Linked DNA regions of Homo sapiens: region 2 is linked to region 1. Evidence: fine-mapped QTL for protein levels in blood plasma. A gene starts in region 1. The other region holds a variant in brackets. All regions are shown on one strand. Distances are from middle to middle.

Region 1 (5,377 bases):
GCACCCCCCACACCAGGGCAGAGCCTCTTTGATGGCTAACTGTCCCGCAGGCCACCCCAGCCACTCCCAGCCCCTGGTTCTCTAGCGTCCTCTCCAGGTGGTGATACTAGGAAGGACTTCAAGCAGCCCTAGACCGATCTTCGTCTTGCAGGGTCCACACCCGGCCCTGGGAAAACACACACACACATGCGCTTTGACCCTGCCCAGAGGGAACAGAGAGCAGTAATTTTCCACTTACGGAAGTCACTTTGCCCAACATGACTTCAACTCATCAGGAGACACAACCCAGTCTACTGCAAGCCCCAACTCCAGGGGAGACAAACCTCAAGCCCCTAAGTGGTCCCTGAAAAGGTCCCTCCTGCTAGGCCTGCATTGAGGCCCAAACACCTCCTGCCCTCCTCCCTGGGAGAGGAGGAGGGACCACAGCTGTCTCCCAAGAAATACCTCTGCCATCTTCTTCCTGTCCCTTCTTGGCCCTTTCGTTGCCTTAATCTGGGTCAGGGCCCCCTGCATGAGAGATGCAGGAGCTGTGCAACTGGTTTTTAGCCACTGCTTGGTCTGTGGCCCAGGACCTCTCCTTGGTATACAGCATCTGGGAAATCATGGTGCCTAAAACAACACTCAAGTTTTCAGACCCAGTTCCAGTAAATGCTAGTAAGGACACCCTCAGTGTGCAGCAAAAAGAGCCCTACCTTAGAGAGGGTGGTCCCCTTGTCCCCTGCTCCCCCACCCCACCCCAGGAGGCAACACTGTAGCTGAGACTTGGTGAATTAGAAGAAGCCAGAATGAGAGCTGGAAGGAGAGCGCTCCTGGGATAAGGCCAGCATGTGCGCAGGCCCTGGGGTGGGAGTGAGAGGAGCGAGGGATGAAGTAGAGAGAGGTGAGGGCTGAAAGGTGGCCAGCAGCCAAACATGCTGGGAAGAGGACATCCAGGCCAGGTGGAGCAGCAGTCAGGCAGCTTTATGCAGATGTTGCGTTCTTTTTTGTGTGTGTGAGACAGAGTCTTGCTCTGTAGCCCGGGCGGGAGTGCAGTGGTGCGATCTTGGCTCACTGCAACCTCTGCCTCCTGGGTTCAAGTGGTTCCCCTGCCTCAGCCTTCTGAGTAACTGGGTCTACAGGCACGTGCCACCTAAAAACCATGCCCGTCTAATTTTTTTTTTTTTTTTTTTTTAGAGACAGGGTTTCACCATGTTGACCAGGCTGATCTCAAACTCCTGACCTCAGGTAATCCACCAGTATTTGCCTCCCAAAATGCTGGTATTACAGGTGTGAATTTACCACTTGCTGAATTCTCTGATGTTTCAAGCATTTCTCATGACCTTACGAGACCCTCAAAATAGTCCCATTTCACAATGGAGGAAACAGTCTCATAGAGAAGAAGCAATTTTCCCAAGGCTGACAGCTGTCAGTATAGGAGCAGGAATCTGAGCCGTGTCTGTCGGCCTCCACAGGCTTCCTCCTGCACTCCTGCGCTTCTTCCCAGACAGGGCACAATTAGGTTTTCAGGAGGGTGAAGGAGGTACTCCAGAAAGAGGACACGGCACAAAAAGGCCTGGGAGCTGAAGAGAGGTGGAGCCAAGGCCAAGAGACGCCAGCAACCTGAGGAGGGGCCACGCGGTACTGAGGGCAGGTGTGGAGTCTGGGGACCATGGGCCTGCAGAGATGCAGCCAGCTTTGCTGTCCCAGCACGTGGCAGGAAGCAGGAGCTGATGCGGCCCCAGGTCTTGGCATTGGGCCCGAGCACCGCACAGAGGGTCATTGTCCATGGGCAGTGGGCATGGCCAGCTGGGAAGCCAAGCAGGGGCATTTGCCTCTCTGGAGATGTGCCCAAGGGATCGGCAGGGTCCTCCCAAGAGCTCTCTCAAAACACCTCACCTTTAGGTATTCAGGGCTTTTGGTGTGTTTGCAAACATGGCAGGACAGCAAACGCTCTTCACCTTGTTCTTCTTGTCAAAAAGCAGGAGGAAGAGACCAGCCAGGGCCTGGCCACGTACTTTGTGACCTCAGAACACTTACTGCCCCTGACTTGTCTGCTGCAGATGGAGACAGGATTCAACAATGGCCATCCCAGCTCTAAACCACAATTCCATTCTTCTAGACAAAAACTGGGTAGCAAGGATAATTCCCCAGATGACATCAAAAGGCCATGTTGGTGTCACCACCACCTCCAGTGCTAAATTGAAGTCTCAGGGGAAGGACAGTGTGGCGGTTAAGAGGGTCCGGTCTGGACTGATGATCGGGTTCAGGTCCCAAAGCTGGAATCCCTGGTCATGTGACCTTGAGCAAGTCACTCGCCTCTCTGAGCCTCAGGTGCCCTCTGTAACATTAACGCTGCTGATGCCCACCTCTGGGTGACTGTGCAGGCTGCGTGAGCCAAGACCTGGGCCCAGGTGGTGGATGACAGCGTCCTGCTGGGCTCTGACATTTGTCCTTTAGGTTCATGGTCATCCCTCCTTATTCTTTTGGTCCACAAGTGCTCATGGAGATTCCTAAAGATGCAGACAAGGTAGAGCAGATTTTAATTGCTGCGGAATGAATGAATGAATGAAATGAAAGCCCATGCTAAGCACTGTGTAGGCATGCACTTCAACTCATGCTCTTAACAACCTATGAGGAGGAGCTACTATTATCCCCATGCTATAGATGAGGTCATTGGGGCCCAGAGAGGTGAAGTACCTTGCCCAAGGGCACACAGCAAAGCAGTGGCAAAAATAGGATTCAAATCTATTCTCCTGGGTGAATTAATTGATGGAGATGTGTATCTTTGATGTATTTAGGAATAAGGGGTGGGTAAGGCTACTCCTTCCTTTTCCCAAATTGATTATCTGGATTAAACAATTGTTGTAATCCCTCTACAAAGGCTCATCCTATTATAAGCAATAATAATATTAATGGCAACGGCCACTCACATTTATGGAGTGCTTATTCTGCTATATGCACTGTGCTTCTCTCAGCCTGGACCTTCCTTTCTCCAAACCTCAGGAAGCTGGAGTCCCAAGGCTGCCTCCGGGCGGGGCTGTGGTTCAGCAGAAGCCACAAATATTTACCTTGGAGACCTCGGCCTGGTCTGAGGCCTCTGCCTAAAGACAAAGCCTGTGCTGGGGTGTGCAGGATATAAGGTTGGACTTCCAGACCCACTGCCCGGGAGAGGAGAGGAGCGGGCCGAGGACTCCAGCGTGCCCAGGTAAAAGTAGGGAAGGGGCTGAAAGCCAAGGTTGCCAGGAAGGTTCTGAGCTAGAGATACCTGTTGGGGTCAGGTCAGGAGCACAGGGGAGGCTCGCCCTCAGGGAAGGGCCCTCGGTGAGTCAGGATCCGCTGAGGGTCAGGGCCAGGTGTAGAGAGATGCCCAGCTCCCTCGCCCAGAGGACCAAAGGGCAGTGACGAAGGGATGGGGCTGGCTGAGTGTTTTCCTGACCTCTTCCTAGTGACATAAACCCACTCTGCACATACCAGTTGCTCTGTCCCAGCTGTGCTGCGGTGGTGCTGGGACAAAAGAAGCATGAGACGCAGACTCTGTCCCTCAAAGAACTCCCAGTGCAGGACAATGTGGTGCCCAAGGAAGACCCAGGGACATGGGAGTGGAGGACAGTCAAAGAAGGGATCCTGGAAGAGGTGATGTGTTGGTTGCAAAGCCGAGTAGAAGGCGATTGGGCAAAGGAGGAGAGAAAGATATTCCACGAAGGGGAACTAGCAGAAGCAAAGGCTGGGAGAGGAGGTGCCATATGACAGGGGCGTGTGTGGTGCCTGGATCTGGGGGAGGAGAGTCTTTTCCACAGGAGGGAAACAGGGATGCTACCATCCTCGTGGGTCCCTGGGTTTCTCTGATCCAAAGAGGACTGAGCAGTGTGTACAGATAATGCAGGACAGACAGAGTCAAGGTATTTGCAAGGAAAATATGGAGTGGGGCCACAGGGGTGCCTGGATGCCGGGGTTCAGCTCTGTCTTCTGGCTTTGGCTGCAAGGTGTCTCCTTCTGACTCCAATATTAGTAATAATACCTGTCATAATTATCGTGGAAGCTACCATCTACTGAACGCTTGGCCATGCCAGGCCACAAATAGATTGTCTCATTTAATCTTCCCAAAAAGCCTATGACATAAGTACTATAATTATTCCCCATTTTATAGATGAGTAAATGGAGGCTCAGAAAGGGTAAGTCACTTGTCAAAGATCACAGAGCAAGTGGTAGAGGCAGGCCTCCAACTAGGGTTCATCTGGCTGCCAAGCCAATAATATTTTCCCCTCCACCTTCAGGCCTCCTAACACTAACCTTTTCAGCTTAGCAGGCTCAGATTTCCAATTCTTTCGGGGCTTCCAGAGGCTATGCAATTATTCAGCAGCCATTTATTAAGCACCTGGTCTATGCCAACCACTATACTGGATGCCAGGGACACAGCAGGGAGCAGGCAGACCCAGCCCTCCCTCCCAGAGCTCACAGCTTGGTCAGGGAAGCAGAGGCTGAATCATTATTGCAAGGGTCTCAGAAGAGCTCACACTGCTCCAGGGCACAGGAGACACATGTCATCCGGATGCCACATTTGTCTTTGGCAAAAAGAAATCCACATGCTGAACCAAGCGAGGGGCTCAGATCTCTGCAGCGTCTCCCCTCCCTCCAAGCAGGACAGTCCACAGGGGCAGGAGCTTCCATGGGGGGCTGGCAGACAGAGCCAGGGTGCAAGCTGGAGAGCTCAGGACTGGACTACAGATGTTGATGCCACACCCCTGTGGAGGGAGGGGACAGAGCAGCCAAGGGGCCAGAATACCCCCAAGCTCCTCTCCCTGGCATGAGCCACAGGGCCCTTTCTCTCTCTCTCTTTCTCTCTCTCTCTCTCTGCCCTTCTTTTCCTGGCTCCAAGAAGCCATTCAGTCCCTCCCCAGCCCCCTTAGTATTGCAGATTAAGCAAAGAGCTTTTTCACAACTTTGAGTCCTACCTGGCTCCTCATTTCCTTCCTGCCTCCAACCTTCATGTCTTGGGCCCCAGGACAACATTTCTCCAAGTGTGGTCCAGGTTCCCTGTCTGCAGGACAGGGGAAGCTTTATAGGGAAAGTGACAAATCTTGGCAGGGTTTTAAAGGATGAATAGGAGTTCATCAGGGAGATATGGGAGGAGAAAAGCATTCCAGGAAGCAAGGAAGAGCAAGAGCAAAGGCACGGACACAGGAGAGAACACAGTATGTTCTGAGACCTTCCAACTGCTTGGAACTTGCTAGAACAAGGGGAGAGAAAGCAGGAGGTGAGGTCAGCAGACGGTGAACCATAGAGGGTTTTAAGTGTCAGACTGAGGGGTGGGAGACACGGGAAGCAGAAGTTCTTTGTTCTGAGCATTGTTGCTGGATTTTCTGTAAGAAAATAGCTAATACAGGCTGGGCGCGGTGGC
Region 2 (5,377 bases), 110 kb before region 1:
AGTCACCTCGTGAATTATACGATTAGACGTAGTTATATCACCAATTTTATTTAAAGTGTCATTCTCTGAATCATTATAACTAGGTAGATATTGTCCATTACAGAGCCAAGTTACAATATTATGATTACATCTCTTTTCTTATACGGTATAGTCTTTTGTTTTTCCTTAAGTTAGTAATTGCCCTGTTGTTTCTCACTTGAATTATTTTCTTCTCATATATACTTAATTATTTTCATGAGCATCATCCTGTATCTATCATGACATTTATTATTTTTTGAGACAAGGTCTCACTCTGTCACCCAAGCTAGAGTACACTGCCAGCCTCAACCTCCTGGGCTCAACTGATCCTCTCACCTCAGCCTCCCCAGTAGCCGGGACTACAGGTGCACACCACCACACCTGGCTAAGTTTTACATTTTTTGTAGCGGTGGAGTCTCACCATTTTGCCCAGGCTGGTCTCGAACTCCCGGCCTCAAGTGATCCTCCTGCCTTGGCCTCCCGAAGTACTGGGATTACAGGCGTGAGCCACCACACCCAGTCACGACATTTATTCCCATCCCCCTGTTCTCCAGAGACCTATCATAAAGACACTTTGTCCTCCTCCTCCTATAAGAATTATTGCTTTCTTTTGGTGCAACTGCTTTTGGTGTCATGAAGTCTTTGCCCGTGCCTATGTCCTGAATGGTATTGCCCAGGTTTTTTATGGTTTTGGGTTTTACATTTAAGTATTTAAACCATCTTGAGTTAAGTTTTTAATAAGGTGTAAGGAAGGGATCCAGTTCCAGTTTTCTGCATACATCTAGCCAGTTTTCCCAGCACCATTTATTAAATACAGAATCCTTTCCCCACTGCTTGTTTTTGTCAGGTTTGTTGAAGATCAGATGGTTGTAGACATGTGGTGTTATTTCTGAAGTTTCTGTTCTGTTCCATTGGTCTATATGTCTGTTTTGGTACCAGTACCATGCTGTTTTGCTTACTGTATCCTTGTAGTATAGTTTGAAGCCAGGTAGCATGATGTCTCCAGCTTTGTTCTTTTTGCTTAGGATTGTCTTGCTATATGTGCTCTTTTTTTGGTTCCATATGAAATTTAAAGTAGTTTTTTTTTCTAATTCTGTGAAGAAAGTCAATGGTAGTTTGATGGGAATAGCAGTGAATCTATAAATTACTTTGGGCAGTATGGCCATTTTCATGATATTGTTTCTTCCTATCCGTGAGCATGGAAAATTAACAAATGGGATCTAATTAAACTGAAAAGCTTCTGCACAGCAAAAGAAACTGGCATTAGAGTGAACAGGCAACCTACAGAAGGGGAGATCATTTTTGCAATCTATCTATCTGACAAAGGTCTAATATCCGGAATCTACAAGGAACTTAAACAAATTTACAAGAAAAAAACAAACAACCCTATCAGAAAGTGTGCAAAGGATATGAACAGACACTTCTCAAAAGAAGACATTTATGTGGCCAACAAACATATGAAAAAAAGCTCATCATCACTGATCATTAGAGAAATGCAAATCAAAACCACAATGAGATACCATCTCACACCAGTAAGAATGGCAATTATTAAAAAGTCAGGAAACAATAGATGTTGGCAAGGCTGTAGAGAAATAGGAACACTTTTGCCCTGTTGGTGGGACTGTAAATTAGTTCAACCATTGAGGAAGACAGTGTGGTGATTCCTCAAGGATCTAGAACCAGAAATACCATTTGACCCAGCAATCCCATTACTGGGTATATCCCCAGAGGAATATAAAACATTCTACTATAAAGACACATGTACACATATGTTTATTGCAGCACTATTTACAATAGCAAAGACATGGAACCAACCCAAATGCCCATCAATGATAGACTGGATAAAGAAAATGTGGTACATATACACCATGGAATACTATGCAGCCATAAAAAAGAATGAGATCATGTCCTCTGCAGGGACATGGATGAAGCCAGAAGCCATCATCCTCAGCAAACTAACACAGGAACAGAAAACCAAACACTGCATGTTCTCATTCATGAATGGGAGTTTAATGATGAGAACACATGGATGCAGGGAGGGGAACAACACACACTGGGGCCATTTGGGGGCTTGGGGGCAAGGTGGGGGAGAGAATTAGGACAAATACCTAATGCAGGTGGGGCTTAAAACCTAGATGACGGGTTGATAGGTGCGGCAAACTACCATGGCACATGTATACCTATGTAACAAACCTGCACATTCTGCACATGTATCCCGGAACTTAAAGTTAAAAAAAAAAAATTATTATTATTGCTCTGTGGACCTGCTGGAAAGCTGTCATTCTGGGACTCTCGTTTTCCAGTTTCATGGATTGGAGCCATTTTTTCTCCTGGATTCTAGATTTTTCATTTCTTGAGTGTATTCTCTCATTCTTTCTAGTTTTTCAAACTCACGTGAGCATCTCACTTAGCACAATGGACCCCTAAGTCACTCCTAGACACTGGTGTACAATCAATAGCAATTGCCTGGCCAACTGGTTGATTGCACTGTTGATAAATAATCAGTATATATTATTAATAGTACGGAGGCAGTATGGAGGAAACAAGAGTTCCCTGGCTGTGTGGCTAGACACGTTTCTTAACCATCTAGAGCCTTTATTTCCTTAGCTATAAAAAAGCAGACAGTGACAATATCTACTTCACTGAGTTGTTATAAAGATTAAATGAAATAACATAGGCAAACAGTCTTACCCGGTACCTGGAGCATCGTAGCTACTTCGTAAGTGGTGCGTGACACAAAATGGCGATTGTTTTTGGCAGGCATCCTTGAGAAACTGAAGGTCGACCTAGGAGTGCTTCAGAAATCCAGTGCTTGGCAACTGGCCAAGCAGAAGGCCCAGGAAGCTGAGAAATTGCTGAACAATGTCATTTCTAAGCTGCTTCCAACTAACACGGACATTTTTGGGTGAGTTGGTCCTTCAGGGTGGAGATCTTTGCTCTAAGGAAAGGGAAAACATATCTTTGAGGAGGTAAGT[T/G]TAAGATGAAAGACAGATGGACAAGCCTCATTCCCCTCCCACAGAGCCAAGGTGGTCTGAGCAAGGCCAGACCCACCAGAGCTTGAGTAAATTAGAGGCAGGGCTACAGAGTCAATCCGGGCATCTTATGGGTTCGGGCTTCCGCTTTCTTTAATTTCAGGGTCAGGGTGAAGGTTATATTTATCCTTACCTCTACCCATTTGCTGGTACACAAAGTCCCTTTCCAAGGAATAAAACTTCCCTTTTCCATATATAACTGGGGGTAAAAGCCCAGATCCCCTTAGGGGAAGGGAACTGGAGTCTTCGCCACATAACCCCAGGCAGTGGATCCACTCACATACTTTTATTATTATTATTGTTATTATTATTATTTTTTGAGATGGAGTTTCACTCTTGTTACCCAGGCTGGAGTGCAATGGCACAATCTTGGCTCACTACAGCCTCGCCTCCTGGGTTCAAGCGATTCTCCTGCCTCAGCCTCCTGAGTAGCTGGGATTAGAGGCATGCACCACCACGCCCGGCTAATTTTGTATATTTAGTAGACACAGGGTTTCTCCATGTTGGTCAGGCTGGTCTCGAACTCCCGACCTCAGGAGATCTGCCTGCCTTGGCCTCCCAAAGTGCTGGGATTACAGGCGTGAGTCACCGTGCCCGGTCCCACTCATGAACTTTTAAAGTCAGATAGTTCTGGCCTCAAAATCTGCCTCTGGCACTTACTCCCCTAGGAATCTGGGGGAAAATCACACCAGCCTGAGCCTCAGTGTGCTGTGCCATAAAATACAGAGAATCAAACCTCTGAACAGGGCTATAGTGAAGACTAAAGAAGGCAAGGCTGACGAGACCCAAACGCTCAGCTCGAGGCTGGCCCAGGGAAGTGGTTGGCAAGTGGCTGTCATGAGGAGTGACAAGGGTGAATTGTGGGTTTCACACAGGTTGAAAATCAGCAACTCCCTCATCCTGGATGTCAAAGCTGAACCGATCGATGATGGCAAAGGCCTTAACCTGAGCTTCCCTGTCACCGCGAATGTCACTGTGGCCGGGTGAGTATGCACTAGAATCTGAGATTTGGGAAAGGCAGTGCAACCTGGCCGATGGATGCCCAACCTGGGAATCGGGCACCTCCTCCCGCTGCTGGGTGAACTTGGGCCTCAGTTTCCCAATCTGTGAGTGAGAGAACCCTTCTGGGTCTAAGATCTTAACCCTTAAAATGTTCTAGAGAACTCTGGCCATAAGCAAGTGTCTTTTAAAAACAATGCTCCATTGAATATAGTTTTGAAATCATGACATTTATCTGGTTTTAAAATTTGAAAAGTTGAGATAACAAACATTTATCATTCTTTGGCAAAATTTCCTCCAGCATTATTTTGTCCCTCAAGATTCTCTCTAAGTTGCAGTGACCACTACAGAAAAATTCATACAATAATACACAGTGTATAATAAAGTGTGTGTGTGCAAAATATAAGTTTAAACTCTTTTAAGTTTAGCTGGGAGTGGTGGCTTATACCTGTAATCCCAGCAATTTGAGAAACTGAGGTGGGAGGATTGCTTGAGCTCAGGAGTTCGTGACCAGCCAGGACAATATGACAAAACCCTGTCTCTACAAAAAATACAAAAATTAACCAGGTGTGGCAGCACACGCCTGTAGTCCCAGCTACTTGGGAGGCTGAGGCAAGAGGATTGCTTGAGCCGGAGAGGTCGAGGCTGCAGTGAGCCGTGATTGCACCACTGCATTCCAGCCTGGGCGACAGAGTGAGACCCTGTCTCACAAAAAATAAAAAATTTTAATTTTAAAGGAGATAGACAAGAAATGAGCATGTGTGAAAGCACTTCTGTAAACTACATGCACTAATGATGCCACCCATTATTTAGCTATGAGATCTTGGGATAGTTACTTAACCTCTCTGTACCAAGGTTTCCTCATTCAGAAAATAGGGATAGTAATAAATGAATCCAGGTAAAATACTTTTTTAAAGTACCTACACATAAATTGTTGTCAATAAATGTTAACTATTATTATTTTACTTATTAGTGTAATGTTGTATAAAAAATTCATATGAGCTAAACCCAAGTGGCCAGGAGAAGAAGCCCCTAATATAAACATGTAAATCTCATAGAGGATATGGACCATGTTGATATTACCTGGGCCATGTTGACATTACACATAGACATTCTGACTCATGTCCACACAGGTGGAGGAACCCAACTGGGCAACAGGCAGGAACTTCTAGACTTTGTTCACTGTGCATCTTACTTCCTGCAGGCCCATCATTGGCCAGATTATCAACCTGAAAGCCTCCTTGGACCTCCTGACCGCAGTCACAATTGAAACTGATCCCCAGACACACCAGCCTGTTGCCGTCCTGGGAGAATGCGCCAGTGACCCA

What was found. PIP is the chance, under the fine-mapping model, that this variant and not a neighbour inherited with it causes the effect. Sun 2018 read protein levels with aptamers (SomaScan).
Region 2: its variant is fine-mapped to the plasma level of the BPIFB1 protein (Sun 2018, PIP 0.95).

What each region holds. Positions count from the first base shown.
Region 1 is chr20:33,280,071-33,285,447 of GRCh38, forward strand. BPIFB1 (BPI fold containing family B member 1) reads left to right here and starts at 3,144. Exons shown (of 16, transcript NM_033197.3): 1 at 3,144-3,184. RefSeq lists enhancers at 1,216-1,716, 1,717-2,217.
Region 2 is chr20:33,170,154-33,175,530 of GRCh38, forward strand. It overlaps BPIFA2 (BPI fold containing family A member 2), which reads left to right. Exons shown (of 9, transcript NM_080574.4): 3 at 2,779-2,923; 4 at 3,926-4,033; 5 at 5,254-5,377. Among named protein-coding and RNA genes, the nearest start is that of BPIFA2, 4.7 kb to the left of the region's middle. The variant T/G (reference allele first, on the strand shown) is at 2,994.